2 separate regions of the Homo sapiens genome follow, and region 2 is linked to region 1. Evidence: fine-mapped expression QTL. A gene starts in region 1. The other region holds a variant in brackets. All regions are shown on one strand. Distances are from middle to middle.

Region 1 (8,872 bases):
TTCCTGATTAATTTTTATGCTTTCATCTGTCATGAAAAGCCAATCATGTGAGCACAGGCTTCCTTTTCATTCCTAGTTGCCAGGAAAACTCAGAATGGTGTTTGTTGCCCACATTTTACAATGCATTCAATTCAGATGTCAGAGATTTATCTATCCCTTCTTCTTGAGGCCACCTTTGTTCTGTTTGATGCTCAATGACCATCCTACAAACTGTGCCTTAAACAACCAATTTCCTCAAGCTATTTTTAAAATGACCAAGGCACCAAGTTTTAATTATTGGTCACTTCCGAAAATGAAGAACCAGATGTGTACAACTTCTCAGCTATTATTTCTTATCAAGCTACATTCTGTCCATTTAACATGTAGATAGGAAATGCCTTAAGCACTTTAAACCACATTTTCACAAACTCAGGACCCTTAATTCTATGCCTCTCAGAAGATTCGTATGTGTAAAACTCTCTCAGCTGTGCCAGAAAACCTCTGCAAGGTAGGGAAGATGCAGTCAACCCAAGCACCCATCGTGCTGGCATTAAAGTTAGCTGACAGTGAAAAAGCAAATCCATTACATGAAGCATTGCAGGGGCTAAAATGCCAACTGCTGGAATCACTCAGAAGCCTCTAGAAATTTTTCTTGGAGGGCTTTCTCTTACAAAGACGAATGGCAACTGAAGTCATTTTTGCAACACCACCACCTACCCACAGGCCCTCCTTTCATTGGTCTAGCGCAGAAAGACATCTCAGAAATAGAAGCAATTACTTACATCTATAGGTCATCTCAAAGCTGTCGCTGATGTTCACAATATCAATCTGGGGGAGCAGCTTCGGGGGCTCTGTGAGTTGCGACAAAGCAAATCTAAAAGCAGCATGTTCCTGTGACTGCTGGTTTGGAAATAATCCCCCTATGAGAAAAGAAAATGCAACATGGTATATGGGCTAGAGACAGGTTTTAGTTCCTCACGACTCACTCCAGATGAGTCCTTTTCTTCTCCCCATGCCAAACTCACTAGCTGTAGCCTTGAGTGGTAGAGATGAGAGTTCAAATAGGCTTAACTGGACACTGAAACTTAAACTCCTACAGATGAGCTTTTTTGTGACATGGGCCTCTAATATCTATTACTTTGCTCAAACATTTGATTGTGTACCCCTCAACTCAGCTAAAGTCAGAGAAAACAGGAGACTTGTGCCATTTCTCTTCTTCCTCCCTTGTGCAAACCACCTAGGAGCTGCTATTCTCTTATATAAACATACACATAAGCCCCCTCACCCTCTAGTCATGTCTAATTTTTCTTACATCAGCCTCATCTCTCACCAGAGAGCCTTACGGGAAGTAGGTACTAATCAGTGCTGCAGGGTGATTGAAATCTAGCTCTGGGACCCTGTGGGCTTCTCCACTACTATAACTGTTTACATGGACAGTTTTTAGTCTTTGGCCTAGCAAGACCTGCATGCAATTTAACTATTCTATTGCCCCTAAGGTTTATTATTCATTTTCTCTAAAAACTCTTGCTTTTCTGCAAACAATGTTTTGCTTACTCTTTCACCACACATGATCCCAGTTACCTAGGAATGACTTGTTACATAAGGGATTGCCATTGTGTGTTTGCATGGTGGAACCTTGTGCTTCAAAGATGTGGGATCTTAGGCATCTCAAGAGGATACAAACATTCTATTCTAGTAAAAGGTATAGTAAAGGTGCCTGATGGGATGCCTGTTCCGAGAAACAAGAGTCCATGGCTTACCTTTGTATTTACTGTCAACATGTAAATCAATTACATTTCTGTGAATTAAAATCAGCCATTTCTAGAGACTGAACTATAATGATGTTTACATAGAAGTTTATCTCAAATCTGACAGTAATCACAGTCCAAACATAATGCACTTCTAACTTCTTGTAGAGTGGGTGTCTGTTTTTAAGAACCAATAAATGGATTGCAAGCCTTTTGTTACAGATCACACAAATAGAATCAAGTACTACCTGATGGCAGTGATATTTTCAGCATTTTGTTCTACAATTTAATGCTTCAATCTCTTTTTTTTTTGAAAACAGTAGCAATGGCTTTATCAGTTGAACAACCAAGTTAGGGCTAAATATAATTTTAAAAATATGCAGAGATACATGAGAAAACATAGCACATACATGAAACATCCTCATGCATTTATACCATTTACTATATACACAAATATACTAGACAAACACTTCCAAGCCACAAAGGATAGGTAGTATATAAGCACAAATGTAAACAATGCCACATGTAAGAGCCAGTGATTTCCACATGTACAAGTGCTCCCATTTTAAAGAATGAAAACAAAAAAAATTCTTGATTATGATGCTCCCCCTTCCCCCCAGATGACCACACCCCAAACACTTCCCTGTCCCCTTTCTCCTCCTCTGCAATGAATGAAAGAGAAAGGATGGGAGGTTGAGGAGTAGAAGGCTACGGGCTGGGCTACAAGGGAAGTGTCTCCCCTGAAGGCAGGAAGTTTTGCGTGTTAGGCACTAACACACAGATACGTACACACTTCAGGATGTAGCTTAACAGGTGTCAGGAAACAAAGCAAGTTACTCCATGGCCACTCCAAGCCGCCAGCTAGCTGGAGAGGCTGAAAGAGATGGGTACTGCAGCACATGTATGCCCGACAAAATATCAATTGCACCACATCCCCCCTCAAACACACACTCACAAAAGAGCACAAACTCCCAGCAATGCGAACTTTCCCTAGTGGAGCTATCTCCCTACCAGGGGAGAGAGACTAGAAACCAAACCAACGAAGATGCTTCCAAACACAGCAGCTTGCTTCATTCCGGGACACAAACGACACTGACATGCTGGTCACACGGAAGCCCCAAGCCCTTGTGGACATGCTTTGTGATTGGTGTTATTGCTTCTGTTTGTTTTGCTTTCCCTCATGATTATCAGGAGTAGCAATATCTGTCAGTCCCCTCAGAAATACAGGGAGGGTGGCGGGGCCTTTGAGAAGTGTAACAACTAAGAAGGGGAAATGGGGAACAAAAAAAGCATGCAGCATGTTGAAACCTGCCTCCAAGTTGAGAGGATGGAGCCCAGTAACAAGGATAATGGAGAGCCAACAGGAGGAGAAAGGAGCATGTGTACGTGTGTGTGTTTGTGTGTGTAAAAGGTAGACCTCTGTGGATAGGAAATCTAAGAGGAGGGGGCAAGGAAGGAACGGAGAAAAGGCAGGCGAGGAAGTTCCAGGATCGGGGGAGTGGAGACCACCAGCGCAGCATGGCAGACAGCAAAGAGAAGGCAGCTGGAGGAGTCCAGAACAGGAGAGGGAGCCTACCCGCCTTGGAGTGGGGGCCTTCTGGCATTATTTCAGTGGCTGCAATATACCCAGCACCCCTCACTCCTTCTTCTCGAGGGTCTCTTTTCTGTCCCCCAGCAGAGAAAGCACTGCCTCCTTCAATTACATATATATGTGCATATGTAATATATAATCACACACGTGAAAACACACACACCATACATACTTACATTAAAAATGGAATCAAGCACCATCTACCAAGCAATAGAGTTAACTCCTTAAACACCCACCACCCTTTCCAGCCTGATTTTTTTTTTCCTCCAAAGCGATGGTTCCTCCATTTCACATGCTCTTGCCTGGAGTGCGAGTAGGGTATGTGTGCGTGTGTGAACACTTCCCCTCTGCCCCTCATCCGATCAGGAGAAGCCCCCTCCTCTGGCTGTAAGCCCAAGTCTCCCTTCTGTTACCGCAGCACAGCTTTAGGGAGCCAAGCAAAACAGTCAGTACCGGGGAGGGGGTACACAACCCCTATCCCCAAAAAAATCCCTGGCCAGACCCAGAAAGTCCCTCCCCAGGCTGCCCCCTCACTCACCGATCTGGATATTGTTGGGGAAATTGGCACCTACTACCGCGCCTAGGAAACCGGTGCAGAAGAAGGCAAAAATGTGCTGCATATTCCTTTTTGCATTGGCGAAAAAGAAGCCCAGGTCCAATCATAGATTTGGTGTTTCCCCCCCTTTCCCTTTATTCTTCTCGCTGTTCTGCCTGTTCTTTTCCTCCTGCAGTTCCTTCCTTGCTTGCTTGCTTCCTTCCTTTCGTGAGGTTTGTCTGTTTCCCTTGGAATCCGAACACTTAAACTGCAGCGTTAACACCAACTGACAGCCAGATTAACTGAGCACGGGAAAAGAAGCCCGTCCTCATGCTAGCTGGAGCGCTGGCTCCCCCACTCCCTCTCCTCTCCCCTCGCAGCCTGCCTCTCTCTCCCTCCCTTGCTCTCTCTCGCTCTCCCCCTCACACTCACACAGGCAGCAAGCTCTATGCTAATACCCACCGAGCTAGCTTGGAGTTCCACAGCCGACCTCCCTACCTGTTCCCCCTTCCTCCCATCCTCACCTTATCCTCCTTTCTGTGTGTGCAGAAAGGTGGAGGTGGGGGTGTGTGACACGTGGCACTTGGTCCTGAAAGGGGCAACCCCACAGTCCTCTTTACCCTCCCCTGCCTTTCTGAGCTCGGTCTGCCCGCTCCCCCAGCCCCCAGGCTGAAGCTGCTGGGAATGTGGGTTCAGCTGTAAGTCAGTAGGTGGCAGGGGGTCCCCACAATAGTCCTCAATCCACCAGCTGCTTGATCTAGGTCACTTTTTCTAGGAGTGCATGGGCTGCGCTGGATATATCTCCTGCACTCCACTGGCCCAATTATTCCTACAACTAATTCCTGAGGGAAAGACCCTAGAAATCCCTCCTAGGAAATTTAAAGGAAAAAAAAAAAAAAGCTTTCTCTCTCCTAATGGAAGGAATGACAGATAGACAAACAAGGGAGGATCTGGAGTGACTGGCAGGTATTTTGACCAGGTATTTGACAGTCCCTGTCTACCTTTACAAGTGAAACGGTGGTCTCTTTTCAATCCTAGGCATTTAAAATGGGCCCCCTTCTCTCTTTCCCTGCATTCCACAGGAGTCTATAGCATCAGAATCGTGTGGGTGTACAATAAAGACTAAGGATACTTACACAGAGCAATTACATGAGTCATTTTGCAGGGATTCTAGTGAGAGGATTCAAGCTTCTTTCAGGTCTTTCTGGATGCTGGTCATGTCTGGTGTAAGCTGGAACTTCATAGACTCTCCTAGACCAGGGCTTCTGCTGAAATAACCTGTAGAGAGATCAGCTGTGTTCAGGATAGTAGTGTTAAATGCAAAGCAGCAGCCACTAGCCGCCACAGAATACAGTTTTTGAAGGAACTTTACAGATTTTTATCCATCTATCTTCACTCCAAACCTGTAAAGTGGCCATGAGCCCTGTTTTACAGATGAAAAAGATAAGACTTCTGGGATTAAGTCATAAAGACACAGACCTACTAAGATGTACAGTACAACCTACAAACTTGAGTGCTTTGGCCGTTACCAGTTGACTTACTGCCCTGGCCAGGACTCCTGTCCAACAGGAGATGATCCAGGAAAAGGAAAGTCAACTTTGTCTTTAGTAAGAAAGAAATAATAGACTTTGGACTCCATTTTGCTTTGCCATATGAATAGGCCATTTTATCCACAGACTCTTCACTTCCCTCACCAGGACTGTATATCATGTGGACTTGAGTGACAGCTACAAGGACTGGGATTTGTAAAAAATATCTGACCATGTACAATGAAGCCCCAAAATAGGAACAACTTGGAGGTCAAATGCTTTGTGATTTCCTATGCACTTTCACATATATTAATTAATTAGCTAAAATAATTTTTAAGGCTAATGTTTATTCACTATTTTGAATGTGCCAGGTACCATGCTAAGAAATGCACCTGCATCATTTATTTGTACAATACCTGTGTAGGTAGCCTCATGCCCATTTTATAGATGAAGAAACAGAGGTCTAAAAACTCACCCCAAGTTTTCACTGCTAATGAAAGAGATTGGGCATTTAAACACAGTAAATGCCACCATCAGGCCCCAGCTCTTAACTCTTAGGCTCTAATAACAGCAAGCACTGGGTAGGAACCTTCTAAAGGAAGAATAAGCATCAGCATAGGAAGATGAGAGAACAGAATCAGGAAAGATCACTTCTAAGGTCTCTGCCAACATTAAGAGTCTCTGATTTAATGATTCCATCTTTTAATTTCTCCATTTTCAGTTTTTGTATCTTACTACTTTGAATAGTACCTGGGGATCTTTTAGGTTCCCTAAGCTTTGTGCCTGGTAATAATAATAATTAGGCTGTCATTAAAGGCTTCACACCTTGCAATCACCTTTTAGAGGAAGCTCTTTAGACCCTTTACAAGCAAAACCTCAATGTCCCCCTGCATTAGGTAAGATTTGTTTTGCATACTTTGTAGGGAGGGGACTTTTAAGGGAGTCAAAAAGATGAATTTTCCATGGTCATTATAAATCATATAGTCAAGCAGATCTTCCTAAAACAGAGGTCTACGTCATTGCCCTGCTCAAGTATGGTCAATAGCTCCCCTTGGTCTATTAAATACATAGTTGTTCACTGATTAAATATAGAACTTACATATTTCAAGTGTAGGCATCTAGGTCAAACTACATTAGGTTCAATGTTTATTCCATGTTTCTTTATAATTCTCTTCATTTCAAATGTTGGTGGGGAACCTATTCTGTATCTCACAGGGTGCCAGGTGCTGGGCAATATGAAGAGGAATCAGACACAGTCTCTGCCTCAAGGCAGGTGAATGTGGCAGAAGAAGAAGACAGACGAACCCGGACAACTGTCACCCAGAAAGACCATGACAAGTGCTCTAAAAGATGTAAACACAGCAGCGGGGGAGCAAAGAAGGATGCAATCAGTGTGTCTGTCTGTGGGGATCCAGCAAGGCTTCAAAAGAACTGAGCCGTGAAGGATGAGGAGATTATAGGCAGTAACTGAGGACTGGGAAGGACATGCAAACCAAGGAAAGAGCCCCAGCAAAGGCTGGGGGCAGGAAAGAATGCCACGTGCTCTGTTAGCCTGGAGCCGGCAGTGCATAACTGGGAAGAGTGTACTGGGGAACTTGGAACTTAGAGGAAGTCAGTGTCAGGATTTGGAACCCACTGAATTCCTGGTGGACCATGATGAGCCATGGGGGCATTTTTAGTATGCTAGTTACAATAGCGGGCATGTGCATGAGAAAGAAAAGATTGACCACTGGTAGAAGGTGATTTTCTCATTTCCTCATCCTCAAAGGTTAGAACTACCTACCAAACAGCTTCATTTCCCTAAATAACTTATTTGACGTCATCCTTTATTAGCTCATCATGCTGTCTCTCTTTAGAGTCCCCAGTCCTATTTGCCATTCCCAAAGTGGCAAAGTCTTCAAAGTGGCTACATGATTAGCTTAAGACAGTGGTTCTCAACTGACAGCAATTTTCTCCCCCAGGGGATATTTGGCAAAAATGTCCAGAGATGTTTTTTGTTCTCACAATTATGGAATTGTACCCCTGGAATCTCATGGGTGAAGGCCAGGGATGCCACTAAACATCCTACAATTCACAGAGCATCCACCCCACAAAAAAGAATTATCTGGTTCCAAATATAAATAGCATTGAGGCCAAAAAACCTTCCTTAAGGGGACTAGTGATTGGCATGCCAGGGACTGGGCACCAGGACCCTGCAGCGTCCCTCCCATTATATTACACTGAAGAAAAATTAAGTTGATTATCTTTTAAGACTTTTCATATTTTAAAGTGGGATATCTGAAGATGGGTGCTCATTAAAGTCCAGCAGTTAAGTATCTAATGGAGGAACTCCAGGTGGCTGACATCCCATTGGAAAAGCCTCCAAATGCTGCTCAAATTGTGCTCTAGAGACAGCATGGCACCTACTCCTCAAATTAATTATGACCCATCCCAGCTCATATTTTTGGCATACTTTAAGTCCTCTTACCATGTAGCCAAAACAGTCTAAGATTTACTTATTTTGGCTTTGTTTTGACACCGCAAATCAAGGAGAATGGTGTTGGACAGGGATTACAAATGCAAATGCTTCCTTGAGCCAGGCAGGGAAATGAATGAAGTGAGCCAAGTTGGGGAGAATGGGGAAGACAAACGGAACTAGAGAGACTGTGCCCTGTTAAAGGTGGCCACAGGGACTCAATAGGCAGCAGATTATTACCATGAGGAATTGTAGGCCTAGAGTGGCTAGATCCTCAGATTCTTTTCTCAAGGAAAAGTAGAAATATGGAATATATATATATATACACACACATATATGGGATATGGAATATAGTGACTTAGGGAAAAAAGGGGTAGGGTAAGAGTAGTGCCTCTGAGCTTGATCTGACTGACAGGCCACGGAGTGCCAGTGGAATCCTGGAGACAAGAGTCCAACCACTTCTCATGCCCAGTATCAATTTAGGGGCCAAGTCCATTTCCTCTACAAGACTGTTTCCTCATCTATTAAATGACAAGATTAGATGTGGTGATGGCTACAGACCCTTCTGGTTCTGACACTCTGTAACTCCATTTGACAGCAGGGGCTGGGGTAAGGGAGAGAAAGGACAGATGTCAGGTCTGGGGAGGCCCATTCTCTCCTCTACCTCCTATTACCTGTGATAGTGGTATTGGCAAGTTCCTTCCCTTCTTGGACTAGTTTCTCCATCTGCAAAATATGGGTGTTTCACCAAGGTTTCTTCTGGCTTTAACATTTTAGGTTTCTAGTGTAAAGCAATTCAAGGGGGTGGGGGGACCATCAAATTTATGATCTAAGAACAGATTGCTGACAGCTAACCAACTGGCAAAAATGCAATCAGAGAGAGGGTGCCTCTGTGGCTTTAGAAAGGCCTTATTTTTAAAGATGTTTTAAAAAATAATAATGATAATATTTTTTCATGTTTTCTAGCACAATTCATACAGAAGGCTCCAAAATAATCCACAGACTGTGTGTGTGGTGAGAACACACCCCAAAGAA
Region 2 (8,000 bases), 30 kb before region 1:
TACAGGTGAGCCCCACCACGCCCAGCTAATTTTTGTATTTTTAGTGGAGACAGGGATTTCACCATGTTGGTCAGGCTGATCTCTATGTCTTGACCTTGTGATCTGCCTGCCTCAGCGTCCCAAAGTGCTGGGATTACAGGCGTGAGCCACTGCGCCTGGCCCTGTGCCAGGAATTCTGATTCAGTACATCCAGATTCCAACTATTAGCATTTCAATAACATTCCTTGCTTCTCCTGTATAATTAAGCTTGAGAACCGTTGCCTAAGACTCCAAAGAACTTTACTTTTCAAAGCTGTCTTCAAGGAACTTACAGCTTTTGGAGAAAACTAGCATGCAGTAAGAGTGGCTGGTGATTACTAATAATTCATTCAGTCAACAAATAGTCATTGAGCTGACTATTATTTGCCAGGTACTGTTCTTGATACTAGGGACACAGCTATGATGAGGACAGTCATCTCCTATATGTAGGTCACTATAACTTGTTTTCAATTCTATCCTCGCAGCATTCTTATGAAATAGGTATAATCACTTTCATGTCACAGGAAAGGGGCAAGGAGCTCGAGAACATGGCTGACCTGCACAGGGTGTCAAGGCCAGTCAATGACAGACCTGAAATTTAGATCAATATGAGTCTGATGCTGTGCTCTGTGTTCTTTCCACAACAGTAACAACATAAGCATAAATAAAAAAAAAAATGTTCAAAGCAGTCTGAGTTCAGGGTCAAATGAGTAGTAAAGTTCAGCCAAATGAGTAGTACTGTGGAAGTTCAGCCCTGAATGAAATCATTTCAGGCTGTGGTGAAAAATGAGGCTTCTTGGAGGAAGTGGTAAACTGCATAATGAGGGATATAAAATTGCAGAAAGGCAAGAGGCATTTGAGAAGGGAGATTATACAATAAGAATGAAGAATATCAAGGGATGGGGTAGGAATGTGCCAGTCTAATTTGGGAACAGTGAATGAGTCCTTCCAGTTAGAACACAGCCTTAGAGAAAAGTGGGAGAAAAAATTCCAGAGTAGGTTAGAAGTGAATTACGGATTGCCCTCAGATATCTTGCTTAGGACTCTGAACTTACCCAATCAGACAAGGGAGAACAAGAGAGATGACATGATAAGAGAGAGGTCTAATAATAAAATGGATCAGGTCTGCAAGATGGATCATTGAGAGAGAGAGAGAGAGAGAGAGAGAGAGATATCAGGAACAAGAGAATCAGGTGGAAGATATTTATACAGGAGAGCTGCTACAAGAGGCAATTCATTAATTAATAAGAATTCATACCTAACATTAAAGAAGATTTTTCTATGTTCTAGGCCCTATTTTTGATAATTTCATAGATTAATTAATTTGATCCTCAAAACCTTCCTCTGAGATAACATTTAGCTATTCCCAATTTTGCAGTTACATGGTAAGATTTCACTTTTCTACCTCCTTTAAAGTTAAGCCTGGCCATCAACTTGCTTGATCCAATGAACTGTGTGTGGAAATGATGTCCGTGACCTTGGGAATAAGGCTTTAGAGCCAGGGTGTGGCTTATTACATAAGTTCCTTTGACACTGTGATCATGTTAGGATGGTCCCTCTTTCAGCTTGGGTCCCTAAGGAAGCATGAGGAGCAATGCCTCTCCCCACTCCCCCACCATTTTGTGTTGGACTTGCAGCATGACCAAGAAATAAACTCATGTTATATTAGCCCATGGAAGTTTGGGGGTCATTTGTTACTGTGGTATAACCTGGCCTAACTTGACTGATACAAACTCTTACTCATTATGAATATGAGCTCTACGGTCAGACCACCTGAGTTCAATGTCCCTCTCCACCATTCATCAAATTGACTTCATTTTCAAAATGGGAATAACTATAGTGGCTACCTCACTGGGACATTTTAAATATCAATAATAACAACTTTACATGCCATGATACAGGTTACAGGTAGTATTTTAAACTGTTTATGTGTTCTCTGATTCAGTCCTTACAATAACCATCTTGCAAATGAGAAAACTGAGGCACAAATAGGATATGGCACTTGCCAAAGATTACACAGCTAGAAAGTAGTGGGTTCAGGATTCAAACCTAAGGCAGTTTAATTCCAGAGTCTTACACTTATCCACAGGCAATGTGTGGGAGCACTCAGCTCCCAACACAATAATTACAGGATCACTTTCTCCAGGTGGCATGAGAAAACTCAGTGTCTGGGTCCTACAGTCTTTTGAAGGGTGGGCCTAAAAAGTATGTCTGACCAGAAAAATAAATATATTGACTCTGAAATATTAAAAGCAAACTGTAAAATCAAATTAATAAATATTTAAATATCTATAAAACATGTCATTGCACCAACTAGTGTGCAGCAATGCCACTCAACTCACACATAAATCAGATTCAATGTGAGATGTGGGTGTGCTATAATATCTTTGGTGTAATGAGAGCAGCAAGACACACAACAGTGCATAGAGCCTAAAATATGCCTTAAAACAAGCCCCTGATTAGAGTTCAATGAATGTCAGCTATCATATTATTTTCATTATTGTCCTTAGCTTCAACCACCAGAGCTACATCTGAAGCTATTCAAAATTCTTCAAGGAAGCAAATTGGTCCCCTGAGCCACTCCCAAAAGGCTCTGGGAAGCTCACCACCGAGGATGGTTCTGTCCAGACTCAAGGGAAGGCAGCAAGACTGAGCTGCTTCTTTTTGCCCGGGAAGATCTATTTCTCCTTCCCCACTGAGCCAGATGTGGAAGCTGTAGTTCTGTCAAAGGGCTCCCAGACTGCCACAGGGCTGGGCATGGAGTTAAATAAAATGTACCTTTGCAGCTACAGCAGAAAGTCAGAGGCCATTGGAATCTGCAGCTGCCTGACTCCAGCTCTGCCTCTTACTCTGTTTCTCTGGTCCCTGATACTTTCTTCTGTTTATGGCATGTGTTACTCTGCATAAACTCTTCTTCCTGAAAGTTCACACTGACTCTTAAACCTTGGTCCACTGTCCAGGGTCTGCTGCATAGCCTAAGCATTGTGCTCACTCAGGACATGGTATCTGGAAATGCTTTCCATCCTTCATGCCAAGCTAACAGCCTCTGACCCCAGGCCCTC[C/A]CTTTTGTTCCCTCTTTTGATTCCGCTCATTTCATCAGCATGACTCGCAGAGTTTTCCTCATTTGTTTTTGAATTCTGGGGTAGTGATTTAATAGTAATAGGTTCAAAGATCAGACAGATCTGAATTCAAATCCTTGTTCCACTGCTTGTTAAGGGTGGGTGAACTTAGTAATTTACTAAACCTCTGTTTTTATAATCTATAAACTGGGGCCTAAAACATTACCTGCTTCATGGAAATGCTTTCATGATTAAATGAAATAAGCCAGTGAAAGTAAGAAATATAATTGCTCAATAGATGTTAGCTATTTATATTGTTATTATTACTATTACTAATTCTTACGTTTGATTTTCAGAGGTTCCCTGTGAATCAGGTGAGTAAGAAATCCAGGTTCTTATTTCATGGAGAAGGAAGCAGAAGGTTGAATAGGTTGGGAGGCTGGCCCAAAGTTACAGCATTTGTAAGGAACAGAACTATGGAGCCTCTAGCACTAGATCTAGGAAGTCTTCTGTCTTTTATTCCTTCCATTGCTTGTATACATCTTCCCTACTCACTTCCATATCCATGGGCCCCCACAAAGACAATTTTAATGATGTCCTCATTTATTGCAGCAATTTTTGTAGGTAGGCCCTTGTGTCCTGTCTTTCATTAGAACAAAATCCCCCTTTCTTCTTATGCACCAAGCTCAAACCTCAAAGAACTGCAGAGAATCTTGAATCTGGCAACTTTTGATTTGGTAAATAATTTGCCTTTGTCCTTCAAGGCTCCACTGTGGGTGGCACTGCATTGTTCTGGATTCCCCTGAGAGAGCTAGCAATTTGTGGGCCAGCACATTCACCTCTGTGCCCTTCACCTTCTCTGTAGGATGTATAAGCTAAATAAAAGTTGAATGAATAAAATAAATGAATGACTAGAGAGTCTGAAGAATTCAGAGTGAGGTGAAAGAAAAGAAACGCTGCTTGCTGAAGGAGACCAGTTGGGAGTCTGGAAGCCTTGGGTCTAGAGGTTTTATTAAATTAATAAGCACTGACATATCTAGCAAAGAGCCTGGCCCACTTAAGCTCCCTAACACACATTAGCTATTGTTACTACGAACCTAACAGGCCATGAAATCACAGATACATCTCTTTACTTTGCCTCTCCCCTGGACAGGCAGATTAACAGATTAACAATCCTTTCACTCCTACTCTACTTTGTGTAACTGGAGAGATTTTTAAGGGAGAAAATAAAATTATCAAGAGGGAAAATAGATTATTAGAATATAAACATGCCTTGAAAATGTCAAAAATGTAATCAAAATGTATGGTATTACTATTGTACTAATTATTATCATTATATAATAATCTTCAACACATGGCAATATGGTCTGATATGAAGTATTCCTACAGAGAGACTTGATGATGTTTCCTTGTCTAGGACTGTCTTTCCTTTGCTGGTTGAAGCATGCTTCTCAAGGTGGATGGGGTCACAGACTCCATGCCCTTCAGGTCAGCTGTCTTCACAGGGGCTGCACTCCTGGATGATGTTTTACATGCTGCAGGTCCTGGAGCCAGGGTCAGGCAGGGTAACTGGCTTTATTCAGTCACAATCTGGCTTCTTCAGCCGTGGATTGAGAGCAATCTACACTCACAGCGTTAAGATGAGAACTGAGTTACAGAAAAACTTCAGACTCTGATCTAGTCTGATCTAGTATCCCATAAAATTAAGTCATTCAATAGGTAGTGGTTGTCAAACTTTGGTGAGCATCTTCAGAATCATCTGCGGGGCCTGTTAAAACAGAGTGCTGAGCCCCAACTCCAAAGTTTCTGATTCAGGAGGTCCGGCCTGAGACCCTCGAATTGGCATTTCTTTTCTTTCCTTTTTTTTTGAGATGGAGTCTCGCTCTGTCGTCCAGGCTGGAGTGCAGTGGCGTGATCTTGGCTCACTGCAGCTGCCACCTCCCGATTCCAGCGATTCTCCTGCCTCAGCCTCCTGAGGAGCTGGACTACAGGTGCGTGCCATCATGCCCGGCTAATTTTTTGTATTTTTGGTAGAGACGGGGTTTCACGGTGTTAGCCAGGATGGTCTCGATCTCCTGACCTTGTGATCTGCCCACCTCGGCCTCCCAAAGTGCTGGGATTACAGGCGTAAGCCACCGTGCCTGGCCTTGAACTGGCATTTCTAACAGGCTGCCATGTGATGCTGACTCTACCAGTCCAGGACGGTCATCTTTTGAGAATCACTGATCTAGTGCTTCAGAGCACTGGCTCTGACATGGAGCACGATGCCAGGCTGAATTCACTCAGCCACTTACTAACTGTCCCCATGGCCCAGTTATTTGAACCTCGCAGTATCTCCATTTCTGCATCTGCCAAATGCATTTTTATGTAGTTTAAATGTGATAATACTAACTCATAAGTTTATTGTGGCAATTATATGAAAAAAAATACTTGCATAATATTTGTACAGTGCTGAGCACATAATGGCTCAAGTTTGGCCACTATTACTATTATTGTACATGTATACACATGATTAATAATATACATTATCATACTTTTAATCCTGAAACTACTGGCTTTTAATCCTGAAACTACTGACTTCTCAGTTTCCCTCATTAGGCCATGAGCAGCTTCAGAGTAGTGGCTGTGTATTTTTCATGTCTGTATCCCCAGGGCTGAGCTCAAATCCAGGTAGAAAGAAATAGCCACTTCAGAAATTCATTCATTTATGTGGTTACTTGATAAATGTCTACTAAGCACTTAGTCTGTGCTAACCCCAGACTAGACACAGGATACAAGGAACAAGAAGCAGATCCTTTTCTTGTGGCGCTTACACTGAGCAGGTAAAAAAAGACATCAGATAATACAAGTAAGTAGGCAAAATGGGTACTAATTATAAAAAAAAAGCTTCAAAGTTTAGTAGCACCTGTGGGCTATTTAAAAAAAATGCTTTGAAGGATGTTGAAGTGCTGGAAGAGAGGGCAATTAGAAATTTACTTTAGATTAAGTGTTCAGGGAACACTCTCTGAGAAAGTAACGTGGGAATTGGGACCTGAATAGTGAACTAGAGCCAGCCATGATGAGATTTAACGGCATCCCAGGCAAAGGGAACAGCCAGTGCAAAGGCCCTGGCAGCTTGGCCTGTTTAAGGAACTGAAGGAAGGCCTGGAAGGCTGAAATCCAGTTACATGAGAGAGGGGCAAGAGGTAAGGTTAGGGAGGGACAGGTTCATGGAGGGCCTTGTAGGCCAAGGAAGGGAGTCTACATTTACTTAAGCAGAGGAATGGAATGTTCAGCTCAATACGTTTAAAAAGTCACTTTAGCCTCCAGGTGGAACATTGTCTGGAAGGAGGCAAGAAGACAGGTTAGGAGGTTAATGTAGTGATATGGGAAAAAGATCACAGTGTGAGGGATACGGGGTTATGGTAGAGATTTTTTTTGAAAAAAGTGTGTGGATTCAAAATATATTTTGTAACTAGCACTGACAGACTTGCTGATGAACTAGATGTGGGGGTTCAGGAAAGAGAAACAGAGGATTATTCTGTGGGATTAGTGAACGCATCTCCAGCTGTGATCTCTTTATAAGGAGCTGCCACAGCTACTTAGCTTCCCATCTGCCCATATCTCATGTCTGTTTCCCTTACTTAATTTGATCCCTCCCTTTCTGAGGGCCCAGGGGACTTTCCATGGTTCTTTGAGGGTCCCTCCCCTGATTTCCAAAGCTGTGCTTACCAGCACTAGTGGTTACTACCCCTGGAAGCTCAAATGTTCTGCTCCCCACAAAACAGGAAGAAGCAAGCCCTGGGGGAGGAGGGGTATTAAGAGAGGGACCAGTCAGCAGGCGGTGGATGAAAAAATAAAGCCATGCAGGCACTCTGGGGATCTGGATGCTGTCAGGAAACTGAAAACAAGTTCAATTGAATATTCAGAGAAAGAGTGAATGTTTTCTCCTCGCTGGTTCGGGCCTCTGGGTACTGGTGGGAATGGCAGGACCACGAAAAAAGCAGAGAGCATCCTCTAGGCCTGTGTGGGTTTCCTGCGTGGCTGAGGGCAATGTATTCGTGAATGGATGTTACAAATAAGTGATTCTGATTGCAGGGCCTGCTCTCCTCCCACCTCCTGCCTCTCTCTCATACCCAATATTTCGTCATTTGTCACTCATCTTAAGATCCAACCATTAAGGCCAAGCTGAGGTTTTTATGAATTTGTTTTTCTTCATAATACGGCCATGAATGTTGCCATCAGTAGAATATTTTTCTTCAGCTCTAGATCAAGCTCAGTTTTCGTGTTTGATTTTTGTTTTTCCTTTTTTTCTTTTCCTTCCCTCAGTTGGCATGGGAACGCTGAGGCACCAGTTCAGGGAGGATCCATCAGCCTCATCACAATACGCCCCCATGCTGCCCAAGTGCTTTGATATGAAAAGTGCAGACACATTTCTTCCTCGTGAAGGGAGATCTGGACGCAGCAGCCTTTTGTCTCCCCAGCCAACAGGTGCTCCAGCTCACATGATTCCAGAGGTTAAAGAGACCTCAGAGGCCAGTCCACATCCCAGAGGAGGGAAGCATCTGAGCCAATGCCACACCACAAGGCATCAGTGTACAGGGGACTCAAATCCAGGTATTTTTACAACATTAGAATGCTGTGTGGTGTTTTTAGGATCAACTAGTCTTTTCTGAGCCTTTGTTCATTGGTAAAATCAGATTATCAACTACTCTCTTTCCCCCAAAGGGTGCTGTGGGGATCAAGTGGGATTGATGTGACTAGCACATAGAGCAAATGGGGAGCATTTCTTTTAGCCCTGAGACTCCAAGCATGGGTCTGGCAACTAGATGTTTATAAACAGTTATTTATCCAATGGGAAATTAAAGGAAATAGTTATCATATTTATGCCTGAGAAGTAGATATGGTAGATTTCTTATTTTTATTTTTTTGAGACAGAGTCTC

Alleles and levels. Alleles are on the strand shown, and positions count from the first base shown. SD is a standard deviation of normalised expression in the study named.
As copies of A replace C in region 2, the expression in tibial nerve of the gene that starts at base 4,157 in region 1 goes down (moderate effect, 0.45 SD a copy in GTEx).

The links. PIP is the estimated chance that this variant, and not a neighbour inherited with it, causes the effect. A credible set is the group of variants that fine-mapping cannot tell apart.
Region 2: its variant is the best candidate, but not a certain one, in a credible set for the expression of GRIA1 in tibial nerve (GTEx, PIP 0.87).

Annotation. Positions count from the first base shown.
Region 1 is chr5:153,485,955-153,494,826 of GRCh38, reverse strand. It overlaps GRIA1 (glutamate ionotropic receptor AMPA type subunit 1), which reads right to left and starts at 4,157. Exons shown (of 16, transcript NM_000827.4): 1 at 3,857-4,157; 2 at 762-899. The coding sequence starts at 3,938.
Region 2 is chr5:153,516,207-153,524,206 of GRCh38, reverse strand. The region is part of intron 2 of GRIA1 (glutamate ionotropic receptor AMPA type subunit 1); the gene reads right to left. Among named protein-coding and RNA genes, the nearest start is that of GRIA1, 30 kb to the right of the region's middle. The variant C/A (reference allele first, on the strand shown) is at 3,081.